Homo sapiens: one gene and its partner. The protein of the gene in region 2 binds, or shares a complex with, the protein of the main gene of each other region. Each region holds a gene or a part of one and is shown on either strand. Other genes may lie near its edges. A codon is read from its position in the direction of its gene.

Region 1 (9,543 bases), on a different chromosome or scaffold from region 2:
TGTGTTCACCTTACTTAACTGGAATGAAAGTTTTTGGTTTTTGTCGTCTTTTAATAGATACTGAATTTGACCTTTGTTTAGCACCCTAAGTCATAGGGATAGCCTACCATTCTATCGATGGTAGAAATATAGTTGTTGATCCATTATGAGAGATAAACTTCCAAATCTAAGCTGACAGTACGGGTTTATAACAGCGAAAGACAGAAACAGGTCATCTGTTGGTTGGCTTGTAACCTGATTACAAACCTTCTGTTTGCTTTAAAAAAAATGTGGCAATATATACACAGAATCTGGTAGTGCCTCAACCTACTTTGAATACTTTCATATGAGCTCTGGTATCCCCATCATTTAGCTTCCAAAAGGAAATTACTATGCAAGTTCTTAGAATATACTATTGTCTTTGGAACACTTCAAATAGAAGAGTGGTAACCAGAATACCTGAAGCAGGTAGATCATCTGATGGCTTACATGAAACTGCTTTCGTATCATCTAGTTATTAAAATGTTTACCACGTTGATGCCACATTTGTTTGAAAACACTACTAAATACCATAAACATTATGGGAGGATGGCTAATGACTCATACTATTTGGTACCAGGCAAGTTAAAACAGAGAAAATGAAAACCGGAAACTAATATCAAGTGGTTCCAATATGAATGATGCTGCAAAGTCAAGATTTCATTTCCAAGAAATATTTTTAGCAACTCTGGTTAGGCAGATTTTCAACATGTTTATCATCTCTGGTTAAGTAGATTTTCTACTCTCAGAAACCTACAGATGTTTGCTTTAAAACTGACAAAGGGGTTTTGGTAGGAGTGGCGTGGAACAAATGAAGTAGTGGGTTATCTTCTTCAAAAAGCTCTTAAGAGGCCGGGTACGGTGGCTCACGCCTGTAATCCCAGCACTTTGGGAGGCCAAGGCGGGCAGATCACCTGAGGTCGGGTTTTAGGAACAGGGCGCCAAATCTGGCCATAAACTGGCCCAAAAACTGGCCATAAACAAAATCTCTGCAGCACTGTGACATGTTCGTGATGGCCATGACGCTCACGCTGGAAGGCTGTGGGTTTACTGGAATGAGCGCAAGGAACACCTGGCCCACCCAGGGCAGAAAACCGCTTAAGGCATTCTTAAACCACAAACAGTAGCATGAGTGATCTGTGCCTGGACATGTTCCTGCTGCAGATAACTAGCAAGAGCCATCCCTTTGTTTTGGCCCATCCCTTTATTTCCCATAAGTAATACTTTTAGTAAATGTTATGACTGGCTTGCTGTCAATAAATATGTGGGTAAATCTCTGTTCGAGGCTCTCAGCTCTGAAGGCTGTGAGATCCCTGATTTCCCACTCCACAATCTATATTTCTGTGTGTGTGTCTTTAATTCCTCTAGCACCGCTAGGTTAGGGTCTCCACCACCGAGCTGGTCTCGGCAGTCGGGAGTTCGAGATCAGCCTGACCAACATGGAGAAACCCAGTCTCTACTAAAAAAAATACAAAAATTAGCCGGGCATGGTGGCACATGCCTGAATCCCAGCTACTTGGGAGGCTGAGGCAGGAGAATCGCTCCAACCCAGGAGGCGGAGGTTGTGGTGAGCCAAGATCCGGCCGTTGCACTCCAGCCTGGGCAACAAGTGCAAAACTCCGTCTCAAAAAAAAAAAAAAAAAAGCTCTTAAGAGCACATAAACATAGGAACTTTGTGAAGTCTAAGGACAAAACAAAAAACAACATCACTAACAGACCATAAAATTAGAAATCAGTCACAAAAAGCCAGTCAAAATATCCAAGAATTTATGGTTGAAGATTGAATGAAATTGACAAAATATTTAGACCTGAATTTTATATATGCACATATCAAAACTTGCAAAATGTAGCTGATGTGGTCTTTTGAAGGAGAAGAGGTAAAAAATAATCAGTTCAAAAAATTATACTAAAGAGGCCGGGCGCGGTGGCTCACGCCTGTAATCCCAGCACTTCGGGAGGCCATGGCGGGCGGATCATGAGGTCAGGAGATCGAGACCAACCTGGCTAACACGGTGAAACCCCGTCTCTACTAAAAATACAGAAAAATTAGCCGGGCGTGGTGGCAGGCGCCTGTAGTCCCAGCTACTCAGGAGGCTGAGGCAGTAGAATGGCGTAAACCCAGGAGGCGGAGGTTGCAGTGAGCCGAGATCGCGCCACTGCACTCCAGCCTGGGCGATACAGCGAGACTCCGTCTCAAAAAAAAAAAAAAAAAAAATTATGCTAAAGAGTAAACTCAAAGAAAGTAGAGGAAAAGAATGAATTAAAAATCTGTGTTTATAAATAAAAATAAAAGTAACGGAGCAAAAAGACGGGCATTAGAAAATAGTCATTTCTGACCTCTGGTCAGATAAAGGGAAAAAAGCAAAAAATTAGCTATGTTAGGAATATAAATGGGGACAACACTACAGATAAAATAGTTTTAGAAGACTAAAATTTATTATATGTATACAAGGGAATAGTATACTATTTAAAAAGAATTAGATAAACATGTACCAAACAAGCCTCAAAAAATACAACTGGCAGAAATATTCCTAGAAGGAATCCTTTAGTCAATATGCACAAAGCATTTAAGCATTTCATTATTTTTGTTTTTTTTTTTTTTTTTGCTTTTGTTTTTGTTTTTTTGAGACAGAGTCTTGCTCTGTTGCCCAGACTGGAGTGCAGTGGTGCAATTTTGGCTCACAGCAAACTCTGCCTCCCAGGTTCAAGTGATTCTCCTGCGTCAGCCTCCCAAGTAACTGGGATTACAGGTGCACACCACCAAGCCCGGCTAATTTTTGTATTTTTAGTAGAGACGGAGTTTCTCTATGCTGGCCAGGCTGGTCTCTAACTCCTGACCTCAAGTGATTTGACCGCCTCAGTTTCTCAAAGTGCTGGGATTACAGGTGTGAGCCACTGCACCCAGCCTTCATTGTACGTCTTTTTGTCACTAGAGGTACATTTTGTTCTAACAACTAAGACCCCAAAGCATCCTTTTAAGCTTTATCGTTTTGTAAAATGGTTAAAAATAACATTTTCCACCAATGACACAGATAAAATTTTAAAATGTGGTGGTATTATTCCATTCTTATTTTAAGGATATACATATATGCAATTTGTATGTGGATATGATTTTTTGAATGGTGAACAGAAACTTAGTGGTCAGGTAGCTGGATGCGGTGGCTCATGCCTGTAATCCCAGCACTTTGGGAGGCTAAGGCGGGTGGATCACCTGAGTTCAGGAGTTTGAGGCCAACCTGGCCAATATGGTGAAACCCAGTCTCTACTAAAAATACAAAAAATTAGCCAGGCGCGGTGGTAGGCGCCTGTAATCCCAAGTACTCGGGAGGCTGAGGCAGGAGAATCGCTTGAACCCAGGAGACGGAGGTTGCTGTGAGCCGAGTCCGCGCCATTGCACTCCAGCCTGGGCAACAAGAGTGAAACTCCGCCTCAGGAAAAAAAAGAAAGAAAGAAAATAAGAAAGACAGAGAGAGAGAGAGAGGAAGGAAGGAAGAGAGGAAGGAAGGAAGGAAGAGAGGGAGGGAGGAAGGAAGGAAGGAAGGAAGGAAGGAAGGAAGGAAGGAAGGAGGGGAAACTTAGTGGTCAGATGGCAACTAGGGGAGGGGAGGCAGAAGGTAATTTATTTTTCATTTCATATCCTTCAACTATCAGAAATTTTGTCATATGTGTTTATATTTTCCACTGTGTTTCATTGATTCTAAAATGCCTTTTCTTCATAACCCTGAAATTGGAGTGTTTCTTACAATCATTGGTATGTCACATTTTTTTCTGGCTTGTGGTAATGGGTTAAAATGATAAATTGTAAAATCAATGACGTCTTAGGAATAATGAAAAATAGTTTAATAGTGAATGAAGAACTATGTAATTTTAACTGTTCACATTTACTCTTGGGTATGTTTCCAGAGGATAACTGAACGGGGATAGATTTTAAAAAGCTTTATTTAACTGGGTACTTCCGCAATTTAGTGATCAACTTCTGTGTACAACAAGGTACTGTCCTTTGAGGATGATGGGAGAATACAGGGAAGAACGAAATCGCCTCTGATCGTACTTTCTCCACGGATGTAAGTGTCCGGGCTCTAGTGGGGGAATGATACTCTTCGTGCGAAATTCACTTTTAAAAAAGGCTTAGAAAACTGACCACCGGCTCTCAGCTGCAGCTTATCAACCACAGAACTCCGAATATGCCCGCACATCAGTGCGCTGGGTTAAGAGGAGAAGGGGCTGCGGCTGAGCTTTCCTAGAAACAGCTATTTGGGGACCCATTTCCTGTTGGAGTCTGAAAGGCGCACGCACCAGAGCCAGTGGCAAAGCAACTTAAGCTGCAGGCTCCTCCTGCCCACCCCCAGCCGCGACGCCCCTGGGGGCCCTTAGCAGACTGCCAAGCGAGTGTCCCCGCCCTGTGCCTTGAATTTAGCCAAACTCCTTTAATATCAGGCCTGGCGCGGTGATTCACGCCTGTAATCCCCGCACTTTAGGAGGCTGAGGCAGGAGGATCGCTTGAGGCCAGCAGTGAAATTAGCCGGACATGGTGGCGCGCGCCTTTCTGTGGTCCCAGGTAATCCGGAGGCTGGGGCGAAAGGGTGGCCTGAGCCAGGGAGATCGAGGCTGCAGTGAGCCGTGTTGGCGCCACTGCACTCCAGCCTGGGCGACAGGGCAAGACCCTGCCTCAAAAACAAAACAAACTGTAATATCGTTCAAGAACGTGTGAAGGACACTTGGAAAGTTACCAGGCCATTTCTCTCCTGGGCGCCCGCGGCCCTAGAACGCCGGCCTCACCGGCAGACGCGCGCCCTCCTCCCAGATGCGCAGGTGACCCCGGCGGGCGGCGCGGGAAAGGGAAGAGCTCCGCGAGGCCGCGCGGGGGGGAAGCGGGAGAAGCCGCTCTTCCTATTCCACTCGCAGTCTGCGTGTGGGGGAAACGAGTGCCCGGCGTATGAAACGCCTAACTTCGCGAAATAAAGAGAGACGTATAAAAGTTCAAGAATTCTGTCCAGACTCAAGGGCCCTTTCTCATTTAGGGGCAACCCTGTCACTACATCATAAACTTTTAAATCCGTGATCCCCACGTTACAAAAGCAGAAGTCCCTTTTAGACTTTTAGCGAAAACTGAACTTTGCCGGTGTCCCACACGGAGGGAGGGAGGACGGGAGGCCACGCCAGGGCTGCGGGGCTGCAGGGCGTGGACGCATCCTGGCCGGGGCGTCCACTGTCGACGTCTCCACATCCCAGGAGGGTCGAGACGGCCGCGGGAAGCAGCCTGCGAGCCGTGCGGCCCCATTCCAAGGACCCCGCCAGTGTGAGTCACTGACAGCTTCGCGAATCAACGGTGCCCAGAGGAAAAAACTTCTCATTTGGACTTCTAGGCCCGGCAGTGGCCGGCGGCCAGGGCCCCCCAGTAGGGCAGGGCGGGGCGGGGCGGGGCGCACAGAGCCAGAGGGGCTTGCGAGCGGCGGCTGAGGGACCGCGGGGAGGGGGCGCCGAGCGGCTCCAGCGCAGAGACTCTCACTGCACGCCGGAGGGCGCCCTTCCTCGCTCGCGCCCGCGCGACCGCGCGCCCCAGTCCCGCCCCGCCCCGCTAACCGCCCCAGACACAGCGCTCGCCGAGGGTCGCTTGGACCCTGATCTTACCCGTGGGCACCCTGCGCTCTGCCTGCCGCGAAGACCGGCTCCCCGACCCGCAGAAGTCAGGAGAGAGGGTGAAGCGGAGCAGCCCGAGGCGGGGCAGCCTCCCGGAGCAGCGCCGCGCAGAGCCCGGGACAATGGGGCCGCGGCGGCTGCTGCTGGTGGCCGCCTGCTTCAGTCTGTGCGGCCCGCTGTTGTCTGCCCGCACCCGGGCCCGCAGGCCAGGTGAGAGATGCACGGGAATGGGGTGCGCGGGCGGAGGGACGCCGAGGGGAGACTGCGGGGGTCACTGTTGCGCCTTCTCCTCACCCCTGCCTCAGTTTCCTCCGAAAGCCAAACTGGCATTTGGGCTGAGATCTGGAGTTTTTTCCAGTCACGTTTAGGTGGGGCGTGCCACCCCCTTCGCGGGCCCAGCCGATGCCCCTTTGGACTCGATCTTGGAGGGTGCAGCCCGCCTGCCACGGGGTGTTGGATATGGAGGAGGATGGAGCGGAAGCCCCCTGGGGGAGCCTGCAGTCCTGCGTTGCACTTGTCATTGTGTTTCTCCCAGGACCACCCCCAAAAAGAAAAGCTCTCACGTTGCTCCACCAATAAACGTTTCGATCTTTAAAATATAAAGTGGCGAACCGCTGCCGCTGAAGTTTTGCTTTGTTGGAAGTTTTTTTCTTGCACATTTTACAGGCGAGAAAAGTGATGTAGAGAAAAGCCCAGGCAGTCCCTTGGCATGTTTAGCAGAGAATCAGTACCAGCAGCCCCCGGCCCGGCCTTGTGTCCAGGAGGTGCGCAGGGTGCGAGATATATGGTGACAATAGCAGAGGCTCCGCGTGGTGGCGGGGGAGGGGACATGGAGAGGATTTTGTTGTTACCTAGAACCCATTCCTTCTAAGTGAGTTGAAGAGAGAGATCCCTCCCCAGGACCGGGCTCCCTCGAACACTGTGGGATCCCAGTATTTCTTAACGAGATTTCTGATCCACTGCAAGAAGGTTGCTCCCCTAGAATATTTTCCCCACTAGTAGTCTATTTTTAAGTATCTGGCCACTTGACCAAATAAATAAATTTGATTAATTTATTTGGTCAAATATTTTCTGTATCCCTTTCCCCAAGAGCAGCACAGATGAGTTGTTTTTAGCCTGTAAAGGCGCTAATTAGAAAGTGAGAAAAGTGTTTTTGAATTTCCTAATAACAATAGTATTTTATAAGCTTTGAGCCATTTTTTTTACGCTGAAAGAAGTTCTAGCGGGTTTTCTTGTTATCGCTAAAAGAATGTGCACTCTATATTGCTCCCACACTCAAAAAAAAGTGTAGACACATCAAGATTAAGAGGTGACAAAGACATAGCATGTTCTCGCCTCTCTGTCTTTGTTCAGGGTGAGTTTTGAGATGCTTTTGGGAAAACTAAGAGCTCCAGACTGGGGCCCAGTGTTTAGCAGTAACTAGCCTGCCTGCAGATAAGTGAGCATTGTTGCCGAAAGTGTTTGAGAGAACACCGAGAACTCCTGAAAAATTGTTTGCGATGAGATATGATTTCACATACCATTATGTAATTTGCACAATGTAGTTTGAGGACACGCTCTTGAGAATCCAGTGTTTTGTTTGAGATTTGGATCATGGGGTGGAGAACAGAGCTTATAGAAATGCTGCACCCTTTCTCACAGTGGCCTCCCAGCAAGGTGTGTAGCCTCATTAGGGAGTGAAGTCAAAGCGTACTGGTTTCTGCCAAGCTTCTTACATCCTCATGGCAGGAGTGGTGCATGTTAATATGGACAGTGCTGGTGTAGACAGAAAGGCAGGTGGATGAACTTGGCTAGTTTATCAACACTGGATTCTGGAACCACTTTGGGAGGGAAAGAAGAAAGGAGTATGATAGAGGAAAAGGAGCGCTTGCTAAGTGCCATATTCCATGTCAAGCCCTGGGCCAGAAGGAATTTTCACTTGGATTGTCTCATTTCACCTTGTCAAAACACCTTGTTAAGGTGGGTATTTATCCCCTTTTGCTGATTCTGCAACTAAGACCCAGAGACAGCGGCTAAGCAAGTGGTGGCGGGTGGGGCAGGGAAGGGGCAGTCCACCCACCCTGGGTGCAAGCAATTAGGAATAAGTGGGGCTTTGTCTTTAGAAAATTTAAAATCACTAATAAAATCAACCCAAGATAGGTTTACTTTCTATTACCACCATGCATTGACAATTCTAAGCATTGTCTGTCATAAGGTAGTGGTGCTGGGACTCTGAGGCATCCAACAGTGCCTCCCATCCTTGAACCGCCACCGCTGTGATAGAGTTTATTGTCCAGGATTACCAGCTCTGTGTGCCAAGAGGGGCGGTGAAGCCCTCCCAGGGCTGGCCCTGACCACCAAGCTGAGCCTTCCTCCAGCACTTCCCGACTTTTTGTTCCCACTCATTTTGGCATTTCCTGCCTTGTCACTTTGTGTGTGTGTCTCATTCTCCCAACTAAGATTATAAAGTTTTATTTATCCCCATGGTGACTAAAACAAATGTTCACTCAGCAGATAGTTGTTGAGAAATGTGTAAATTCATCAACCAGTTTACATTCGTCTAGACAATTTAAGTGAGATGATATGTGATCATTAAAAGGGCCAACATCCAAGAGTAAAAGGTGATGTTTATAAATTTTATGGGGCTCTAGAGGGTTAAAGTGTTCAAGAATAGCTGGTGGTGACTATGACAGAGAGAACTTGGTGGGCAATTCCACTTGCTACCCTCCTACTCACAGAGTCAAGCCCAATTCTCTGGCATGGAATGAAGTGCTCCTCCCCTTGCAGGAGGGTCCCCAGCCCCTCTCCAGCCATCTCCTATTACTCACCCTCCAGTTCACCCAGCCCCATCCTCTAGATCCTCCCTTCAAGGAGCTATGCTTTCTCTGGCTTCTGTCCGCATGCCACTCCCTCTGGCCAGAATGCCCTCCCCATATCCCATACCCGCCACGTTCATGTTTAATTAAAAACAGCTACCCTCTGTGGAGTACTGACTACAGCTGACATCCTTCTTAGGGACGTTACAATACTATCTTATTTATTTCTCACAACAGCCCTTTGAGTAGATGTCATCCTCATTTTACTGGTTATAAAACAGAGACCCAGAATGGTTAAGTCACAAGTTGAGAAAGAGGTGGAATTGGGACTGGGTGCGGTGGCTCATGCCTGTAATCCCAGCACTTTGGGAGGCCAAAGCAGGGGGATCACTTGAGGCCAGGAGTTTGAGACCAGCCTGACCAACATGGTGAAACCCTGTCTCTACTAAAAATACAAAATTAGCTGGGTATGGTGGTGCACACCTGTAGTCACAGCTACTTGGGAGGCTGAGGCACCAGAATTGCCTGAACCTGGAAGGCAGAGGTTGCAGGGAACTGAGATTGTGCCACTGCACTCCAGTCTGAGCAACAGAGTGAGACTCTCTCTCAAAAAAAAAAAGAGGTGGAATTGGGAGTTGACCACAGGCCTGTCTCTCCGAAGTGCAGGCTTTCTCTAACACCCCCTATAGAAAGGAAGCCATCTAGACTCCCAGCACCTCTTACAGTAGAGAAGTAACCCCACTGTGCTCCCTAGTACAGTATGGATTTACCTATTTTTGATAATTCATCAAAATATAGAAGCAAAGTCTGTGCCCTATCGCCTTGGTAGCTCAGGCCCAGCACAGGGAGGTATTTAGTGAGCATTTATGCACGGACTGTGGTATTCTCTCATTTACTTTCGCTAACAGATGATAAGGCAGGCTCTGAAAAGATCCCTGCTCATGAATACACTAATTAATCAGATGTTACAAGAGATATTGCTAGTAAACCTAAACAGAAAGACAGAAAACTGAGCAGTGGTTCTACCGTAAGCAGACCAGAAAGCTCTATAAAGCCTGAAAGTCAGATTTCTTATGAGTCAGCAAGTAAT
Region 2 (9,658 bases):
TTAAAAAGTTAGACCTACAAGTCTGATGAGGATAATAATGATAGTTGCTTTTATCCAAATCTCCCCACGTATCCTCTACAAACAATACAGAACAACACTAACAACAGTAAAACCTACACAAAAAAACCACACCTTCACTAGGTGCTGTGGCTCACACCTGTAATCTCAGCACTTTGGGAGGCCAAGGCGGGCGGATCATGAAGTCAGGAGTTTAAGACCAGCCTGGCCAACGTGGTGAAACCCTGTCTCTACTAAAAATACAAAAATTAGCCAGACATGTTGGTGTGCGCCTATAATCCCAGCTACTCAGGAGACTGAGGTAGAATTGCTTGAACCTGGGAGGTGGAGGTGGAGGTTGCAGTGAGCCGGGATTGCACCACTGCACTACCGCCTGAGCGACAGAACAAGACTCTGTCTCGAAAAAAAAAAATTAGCCGGACATGGTGGCATGTACCTCTGATCCTAGCTACGTGGGAGGCTGAAGCAAGAAGAGGATTGCTTGAGCCCAGGAGTTCAAGGCTGCAGTGAGCTATGACTGTGCCACTGCACTCCAGCCTGGGCAACAGAGCAAGACCCTATCTGAAAAAAAAAAAAGCTAGCAAGAGAACAGCAAAGTAAACCAGACAAAAACGTAAGCAAACTTTTTAAGAGAAAAAAGCAGAAATTAATGAACCACAATAGAAAAATAATAGGCCTGGCCGGGCGCAGTGGCTCACGCCCGTAATACCAGCACTTTGGGAGGCTGAGGCAGGCGGATCACAAGGTCAGGAGATCGAGACCATCCTGGCGAACGCGGTGAAACCCTGTCTCTACTAAATACAAAAAATTAGCTGGGCGTGGCAGTGTACACCTGTAGTCCCAGCTACTCGGGAGGCTGAGGCAGGAGGATGGCGTGAACCCGGGAGGTGGAGCTTTCAGTGAGCCGAGATCGCACCACTGCACTCCAGCCTGGGTGACAGAGCAAGACTCTGTCTCAAAAAAAAAAAAAAAAAGGCCAGGCACGGTGGCTCACACCTGTAATCCCAGCACTTTGGGAGGCTGAGGCAGTCGGATCATGAGGTCAGGAGTTCGAGACCAGCCTGGCTAACATGGTGAAACCCCGTCTCTACTAAAAATATAAAAAAATTAGCCGGGCATGGTGGCGTGCACCTGTAACCCCAGCTACTGGGGAGGCTGAGGCAGGAGAATCACTTGAACCCAGGAGGTGGAGGTTGCAGTGAGCTGAGATCACGCCACTGCACTCCAGCCTGGGCGACAGAGTGAGACTCCATCTCAAAAAAAAGAAAAATAATAGGCCTAATAATTTCATAAATCAAATCCCTAGATATTTGTTTTGAGAAAACCGGCAAGCCATTAACTAATTTACTCAAGAAAAATAAGATATTACAAATACATAAAATAAGATACCAATAGAAAAAATTATAAGAGAATACATTGCAGCAGTCAAGAAAGATACAATAATAGACTTGAGCAAATAGGAAAACGTTTCTTATCCTTGGATAAAATGACTCAACATCAAAAATATGTCCATTCTCCCAGTTAATTTGTTGAAGTGTCATAATCCCAATAAAATTACCACCAAGCTTTTTTATAGACCTAGGCATGTTGACACTAAAGTTCATATGGAAAAACAAACATGCAAGAATTGCCAGGAAACCACTGGAAAGAAAAACTAAAAGAGAACATTAGCCTTCCCAGCTATGTACGCTAAAGCCTCTATCATTAAAACAATGTGACGCTGTACACAGACAGACAACAGACCAGGAAAGCCGAGTCGAACATCCAGAAACATACTCATCCTTAAGCATACTCTATCCATAGAAATCTAGAACGTGGGGCTGGGCACCGTGGCTCATGCTGGTAATCCCAACACTTTGGGAGGCCAAGGCAGGAGGATCACTTGAGCCCAGGAGTTCGAGACCAGCCTAGGTAACATAGCAAGACCCCGTCTCTACAAATCAAATCAAATTAGCTGGATGCAGGAAAAAATAAAACTAAAAAATAAAACCTAGGTCAGGTATGGTGGCTCACGTCTGTAATCCCAGCAGTTTGGGAGGCCAAGGCGGGAGACTTGCTCGAGCCCAGCCAGGAGTTTGAAATCAGCCTGGGCAGCACAGGGAGACTTGTCTATATTTCAAATAAATAAATGAAAATAAGATACAATCTAGAATGTGATAAAGGTGAAATCTCAAATCACTAGTTCAAAGATTGATTGATTGATTGATTGATTTTGAGATAGAGTCTCGCTCTGTTGCCAGGCTGGAGTGCAGTGGCACCATCTCGGCTCACTGCAACCTCCTCCTCCCAGGTTCAAGTGATTCCCCTGCCTCAGCCTCCCAAGTAGCTGGGATTACAGGCGCACACCACCATGCCAGGCTAATTTTTTGTATTTTAGTAGAGATGGGGTTTCACCATGTCGGCCAGGCTTGTCTCAAACTCCTGACCTTGTGATCCACCCACCTCGGCCTCCCAAAGTGCTGGGATTACAGGTGTGAGCCACCGCACCTGGCGAAACGGAGTTTTTACTCTTGTTGCCCAGGCTGGAGTGCAATGGAGGGATCTCAGCTCACTGCAACCTCCGTCTCCCAGGTTCAAGCGATTCTCCTGCCTCAGCCTCCCGAGTAGCTGGGATTACAGACATGTGCCTCCATGTCTGGCTAATTTTGTATTTTTAGCAGAGACAGGGTTTTTCCATGTTGGTCAGGCTGGTCTTGAACTCCTGACCTCAGGTGATCCGCTCGCCTCGGCCTCCCAAAGTGCTAGGATTACAGGCGTGAGCCACCGCGCCCAGCCGATTTTTTTTTTTTAATAGAAACAGGGTCTCACTCTGTTGCCCAGGCTGGAGTGCAATGGTGCGGTCATAGCTCACTGCAGTATTGAACTCCTAGGCTCAAGCAATCCTCCTAACTCAGCCTCTCAAGTAGCTGAGACTACAAGGCACATGCCACCATGCCCAGCTAATTTTTAAAATATTTTCTTTTTCCTTTTTTTTTTGAGATGGAGTCTTGCTCTGTCGCCAGGCTGGAGTTCAATGGCGTGATCTCAGCTCACTGCAACCTCCACCTCCTGGGTTCAAATGATTCCCCTGCCTCAGCCTCCTGAGTAGCTGGTACTACAGGCATGCGCCACCACACCCAGCTAATTTTTTGTATTTTAGTAGAGACGAGGGTTTCACCATGTTGGCCAGGATGGTCTCTATCTCCTGACCTCATGATCCACCTGCCTCAGCCTCCCAAAGTGCTGGGATTATAGGCGTGAGCCACCACACCTGACCAATATTTTCTTGTAGAGACAGGGTCTTGCTATGTTGTCTGGGCTGGTTTTGAATTCCTGGCCTCAAGCAATCCTGCCTCAGCCTTCCAAACTGCTGGGATTACAGGTGTGAGCTACCGCACTTGGCCAATAATTTTTAATAAAGGGTTTAGAGACAGCTAGTTAGCCATTTGGAAAATAATAAATTAGATCTATGCCTCACATCAGATACAAAAATAAACTCCATATGAGTCAGGAATCTAAGTGCAGAAAAATGAAATCAGGTACTAGAAGAAAACATGAGTGAATTCCTCAATGACCTAGCTATCAGGAAAGGCTTTTCTGTTGTTGTTTTTTGTCGTTTTGTTTTTGAGACAGAGTCTTGCTCTGTCACCCAGGCTGGAGTGCAGCGGCACGATCTCTGCTCACTGCAACCTCCGCCTCCCAGGTTCAAGCAATTCTCCAGCCTCAGTCTCCTGAGTAGCTGGGACTACAGGCATCAGCCACCACGCCCAGCTAATTTTTGTATTTTTAGTAGAGACAGGGTTTCACCATGTTGGCCAGGCTGGTCTTGAACTTCTGACCTCAGGTGATCCCCCACCTCAGCCTCTCAGAGTGCTGGGATTACAGGTGTAAGACACCACACCTGGCCAGGAAAAGTTTATCTCTGATTCAAAATCCAGATTTAATAAAATAAATGATTGATAAATTTGACTACCTAGTAATTTTTTAAACTGCATGGCCAGAAAAATTATACATGAGGTTAAAAAAACTGACAAACTAGGAGAAAACATTTGCAATGTATATCACAAATAAAGGCCTAATATAAATACGAAGAACTCACAAAAATTGATAAGAAAGGGACCAAAAAATGGGCAAAAAACCATGAAGAGACAATTCACAAAAAAATTATATAATACAAATACTAGCCAGGCACGCACCTGTGGAACCAGCTACTCGGGAGGCTGAGGCAGGAGAATCACTTGAACCAGGGAAGTGGAGGCTGCAGTGAGCCAAGATTGCACCATTGCACTCCAGCCTGGGTGACAAAGCAAGACTCTGTCTCAAAAAAAAAATTATATAAAAATGGTCCTTAGGCCAGGCGTGGTGGCTCATGCCTGTAATCTCAGCACTTTGGGAGGCCGAGGCGGGAGGATCACAAGGTAAGGAGTTCGAGACCAGCCTGGCCAATCTGGTAAAACCCTGTCTCTACTAAAAATACAAAAATTAGCGGGCATGGTGACTCGCGCCTGGAGTCCCAGCTGCTTGGGAGGCTGAAGCAGGAGAATCGCTTGAACCCAGAAGGCGGAAGTTGCAGTGAGCCAAAATCGTGCCATTGCACTCCAGCCTAGGTGACAGAGGGAGACTCCATCTCAAAAAAAAAAAAAAAAAAAAAAAAGGTCCTTAATCATATGATACGATGTTCAACCTCATTTTCAATTTGAAAGATGTCCGTTAAAACAATTTCAAGATACTATTTCTCACCTCTCAGATTGGTAAAAATTTAAAACTGTGACATTCTTTTGGCAAGGTTGTGGGGAAACAGGCATTCTCATACACTGTGATGGAAATGCAAACTGGTACAACCCTTATGGAAAGAAATTTAAAAATCTCTAAAAAATGACATACATGTTTGCCTTTTGACCTAACAACACCACTTCTAAAAATTTACTAGGAGAGGCCAGGCATGGTGGCTCACACCTGTAATCCTAGCACTTTGGGAGGCTGAGTTGGATGGATCACTTGAGCTCAGAGTTCAAGACCTGTCTGGGCAACACAGTGAGACCCAGTCTCTACAAAAAATACAAAAATTAGCTGGGCATGGTGGTGTGTGCCTGTAGCCCTGGCTACTCGGGAGGCTAAAGTGGGAGGCTGGCTTGAGTCCAGGAGGCAGAGGTTGCAGTGGGCTGAGCCCAGCCATAGGATTGGTTTTAATAGTGTTATGGATGGAGGATTTTGAAACTATATTCTAGTATTGTTCAAATAGGCAAATGCATTACAGATAATGAGGGTCAGGTTTCTCACTGTCAACAGAGAGAGTTACAAATATGGAAAAGGAAAAGCTAAAATTAATCCTGTGGTGTTAGAATGGAATTGGAGGTTTCAGTAGGAACTCATGGTTTTTTATATAGATGATAGAGATATTGGTATATGCATCATATAATTTTTTTCTGGTTCTGTCCACTAAGAGAGCCTAGAAGTAATGACATCCCACTAGCAATGTGCACACGCCAGCACCCAGATCTCAGTTCTAAATTCCACTCTTGACTACAAGGGTTCCCTGGAGAAATGGCTGGTTCCAACACTACAGTAAGGAAAGTAGGATTAACCTGAATCATTTTGCTGTGCCAGAAAGAAAGAAAGTACTCAAAGAATGACAGAACATCTCCCCAAGTCACAGAAGCCAGCTTGAAGGGACTTCCACAGGCCAAACTTGGGATCATCTGAGCATCAGAAAAAATAACAGTAGTAACAAAGTATGGCCTGGCACGGTAGAGCTCACGCCTATAATCCCAGAACCTTGGAAGGCTGAGGCGGGCGGATCACCTGAGGTCAGGAGTTCGAGACCAGCCTGGCCAACATGGTGAAACCCTGTCTCTACTAAAAATACAAAAAATTAGCCAGGCGTGGTGGCACATGCCTGTAATCCCAGCTACTCAGGAGGCTGAGGCAGGAGAATTGCTTGAACCTGGGAGGAGGACGTTGCAGTGAGCCGAGATCACGCCATTGCACTCCATCCAGCCTGGGCAACATGGGCGAAACTCCATCTCAAAAAAAAAGAAAAAAAAAGGTGAACCCTTAGAATAAAGTAAGGATCCTTAAGTCCACACTGATAGAATGAAAGGAAGGAAAGCAATAAAGTAACTAACAAATGTAGAAGGAATGACAGAATTAGATAAGTGCCATTTGGTAGTCACCCTAGTTGGGAGAAGGTTTTGATGCAAACAGAATACAAAATATCAAAGTAGGCCAGGCGTATTGGCTCACACCTGTAATCCCAGCACTTTGGGAGGCTGAGGCAGACGGATCACAAGGTCAGGAGTTCGAGACCATCCTGGCCAACATGGTGAAACCCCATCTCTACTAAAAATACAAAAATTAGCTGGGTGTGGTGGCACATGCCTGTAATCCCTGCTACTTGGGAGGCTGAGGCAGGAGAATCACTTGAACCTGGGGGATGGAGGTTGCAGTGAGCCGAGATCGCACCACACACTCCAGCCCGGGTGATAGAGGGAGACTCCATCACAAAAAAAAAAAAAAAAAAAAAACATCAAAGTGTCTCTTTACCAGATTCTTATTAATTACAAAGGGAAAAACAGAAGTTACAGCAAGAAACTTGGCAGACATTGCCTTCCTCAAGAGGTCAGAGTTAGACTCACCACATATGAGACAAATTGTTCTCATGTGCCAGTTAACAGGATGCACCAAGAAGGACATGGCACCACTGAGCCCGAACCTGACCGTGAGGAAACCTTAGACAAACCCGGATTCAGGGCCAGTGTACAAAATAACCAGACTGCACTCATCAGACATGTCAAGGTCATAGAAGACAAAGAAAGATCCTTCATTGAATCCTGGGTGAGAAACACGCTTTTTTTTTTTTTTTTCCCTATAAAAGACATTAGCAAGACTAACAAAAATTTGAATAAGGTCTATAGATTAGACAATAATATTGTATCATCATTAATTTCCTGGTTTTGGGCCAGGTGCTGTGGCTCACGCCTGTAATCCCAGCACTTTGGGAAGCCGAGGTGGGTGGATTACCCGAGGTCAGGAGTTCAAGACCAGCCTGGCCAACATGGTGAAACCCCATCACTACTAAAAATACTAAAAATACAAAAAGTTAGCCGGGCGTGGTGGCAGGCACCTGTAATTCCAAGTAAGCCGAGACCATGCCACTGCACTCTAGCCTGGGCAACAGAGCAAGATTCCATCTCAAAAAAAAAAAAAAATTTCCTGGTTTTGGCCGAGTACAGTGGTTCACGCCTGTAATCCCAGCACTTTGGGAGGCCGAGGCAGGTGGATCACCTGAGGTCAGGAGTTCAAGACCAGCCTGGCCAACATGGTGAAACCCTGTCTCTACTACAAATACAAAAATTAGCTAGGCATGGTAGTACATGCCTGTGATTCCAGCTACTCAGGAGGCTGAGGCAGGAGAATCACTTGAACCTGGGAGCAGGAGGTTGCAGTGAGCCGAGATTGTGCCACTGCACTCAAGCCTGGGTGACAGCGAAGCTATGTCAAAAAAAAATTTCCGGGTTTTAATATTTGTATTGTGGTTGCATAAGAGAACATCCTTGGGTATTTTTTTTTTTTTTGGAAATACTCAAGTATTTATGGGTAAAAAGAAACCATATTCATGATTTGCTCTCAAACTATGCATATATATATATAAAAATTCCCACACATCCACAGAATGGAGGACAATCTGGATGACAGTATACAGGAAATCTTTGTATTATTTTTACAACTTTTCTGTGAGTCTGAAATTACACTAAATTTTTTTATTTTTTACTTTTAAAGTCAGTCACATCATTTCTTAACCTGCCTCAAGCCCCTCAATAACTTCCCATCTCACTCAATAAAGTCCTTCCAGGCCCTAAAGGAAGTGGCTGTCCTCTGCCTGCCCCCCTCTCTCCCCTCACCCACTGCTGCCCCTCCTCAGCCCCCCAGGCCTCCCTACTGCTCCCCAGACAAGCCAAGAGTGCTCCCACCTCAGGGCCTTAGTGCCTGCCATGCCCCCAGCCTGCGGTGCTCCTCCCCTAGATATGCCTGCTCACTCCTTCCTTCCCCTCTTCCAGTCCCTGCCCAGACATCACCTTCTCAGGGAGGCCTTCTCCAACCTTCTCTGGCCACCTGATTGATTGATTGATCGATCGATCAATGGAGTCTTGCTGTGTTGCCCAGCTGGAGTGCAATGATGCCCGATCTCAGCTCACTGCAACCTCCGCCTCCCTGGCTCAAGCAATTCTCCTGCCTCAGCCTCCTGAGTAGCTGCGACTACAGGCATGCGTCACCATGACCAGCTAATTTTTGTATTTTTAGTAGAGACGGGGTTTCACCATGTTGGCCAGGCTGGTCTTGAACTCCTGACCTCAAGTGATCTGCCCACCTTGTCTGGCCACCCTATTTAGAAGCCCACTTCATCAGCCGTTCTCTCTCCCTGTGCTTCATTTTTCTTCACAGCACTGGTCAGGGATTGCTGTTTTAGATCTGTTTATGGATGTGCCCTCCTAGGAAGGAAGCTCTCTGAGGGCACAGACATTGTCCGTCTGGGTCCCTGCTGTATACCCTAGAACGCTGCCTGGAACGTGATAGGCGCTCAATAAATATTTGCTGAGTGACTGAATGAATGGCATTTCCCTACCCGCAGCCTCTTGCTGCTATCTGAGCTCACTGGTGACTGATACTATGCCAAGTACATTAATATATACTACTTCATTTAACCCTCCCATAACCTTATGGGATAGAGACTTTTACCTCCATTTTACAGAGGAAGAAACTGAGCCACCAAGAGGTTAGGCAACTTGCTCAAAGTCACATGGCTTGAACCCAGGCACAACTCAGTTCTCCCAGCTTGGGCCCCACTGTTCCCTCAGCCCGCCCTGCACAGACTTGCCAGCACAGAACATGTTGTCAGTGATGCGGATCCGGGTGGAGTCCTTGCAGACCGGCCGCTCCACAATGGGCAGGTTCACCACCTGCAGGACACTGGGCTGCCCCTTACCAACGTTGGCTGTCCACGTCTCCTTCAGGTTGCCCCAGCCTGTCACCCGCCCCTTGTATCCAGCCTGGAGCAAGCTTTGGGGAAGGAAGAAGGGCCTAGTGAGAGCCAACCCCCACAGGAGCCGCCTGGCCCCAACGCCATTTCTTAGAGACCAGAATCTAAAACGCCAGAGCTGGCTGGGCACAGACGTTCACGCCTGTGGTCTCGGCACTTTGGGAGGCCGAGGCGGGTGAATCACTTGAGGTCAGGGGTTCGAGACCAACCTGGCCGACACGGTGAAACCCACCAGTCTCTACTAAAAATACAAAAATTAGCCTGTAATCCCAGCTACTCAGGAGACTGAGGCAGGAGAGTCGCTTGAACCCAGGAGGTGGGGTTGCAGTGAGCCAAGATCGCACAACTACACTCCAGCCTGGGAGACAAGAGTGGAACTCCGTCAGTAAATAAATAAATATAAATAAAAAATAAAACGCCAGTACTGAAAAGAACTTTTGGGTTCACTCCAAGAAACCGAGGCCTGGAAAAGGGAAAGGGGCTCTTGCAAGGCTACTTGGTATCAGAGCCAGGCCCAGAACTTGGCTTCTGCCCCTCAGCTAACAAGCATCTGGTGGCCCACCTGGCTGCCGTCTCCCTGTCGGGCAGACACACAGGGTGAATGTAGTCACTGAAGGCAACAGG

What was found.
Region 1: the proteins of F2 (region 2) and F2R are in contact, whole or in part, in a crystal structure (PDB 3LU9), measured with the Homo sapiens proteins. Residues at the interface, in NP_000497.1 of Homo sapiens: Phe382, Arg383, Pro386, Gln387, Glu388, Leu389, Leu390, Cys391, His406, Cys407, Tyr410, Trp413, Lys415, Leu423, Arg425, Arg431, Thr432, Arg433, Tyr434, Ile441, Met443, Glu457, Asn458, Leu459, Asn506 (codon at 9,011), Thr510 (codon at 8,999), Lys517 (codon at 8,978), Gly518 (codon at 8,975), Gln519 (codon at 8,972), Arg541 (codon at 8,906); in NP_001983.2 of Homo sapiens: Ala33, Thr34, Asn35, Thr37, Leu38, Asp39, Pro40, Arg41, Ser42, Phe43, Leu44, Leu45, Arg46, Asn47, Pro48, Asp50, Lys51, Tyr52, Glu53, Pro54, Phe55, Trp56.

What each region holds. Positions count from the first base shown.
Region 1 is NC_000005.10:76,710,528-76,720,070, forward strand, and holds the start of F2R (proteinase-activated receptor 1 isoform 1 precursor), read left to right. Parts: upstream 1-5,598; 5' UTR 5,599-5,780; coding exon 5,781-5,868; intron 5,869-9,543. UniProt on the Homo sapiens protein: High affinity receptor that binds the activated thrombin, leading to calcium release from intracellular stores.
Region 2 is NC_000011.10:46,728,776-46,738,433, reverse strand, and holds part of F2 (prothrombin preproprotein), read right to left. Parts: coding exon 9,597-9,658; intron 9,055-9,596; coding exon 8,873-9,054; intron 1-8,872. UniProt on the Homo sapiens protein: Thrombin, which cleaves bonds after Arg and Lys, converts fibrinogen to fibrin and activates factors V, VII, VIII, XIII, and, in complex with thrombomodulin, protein C. Functions in blood homeostasis, inflammation and wound healing.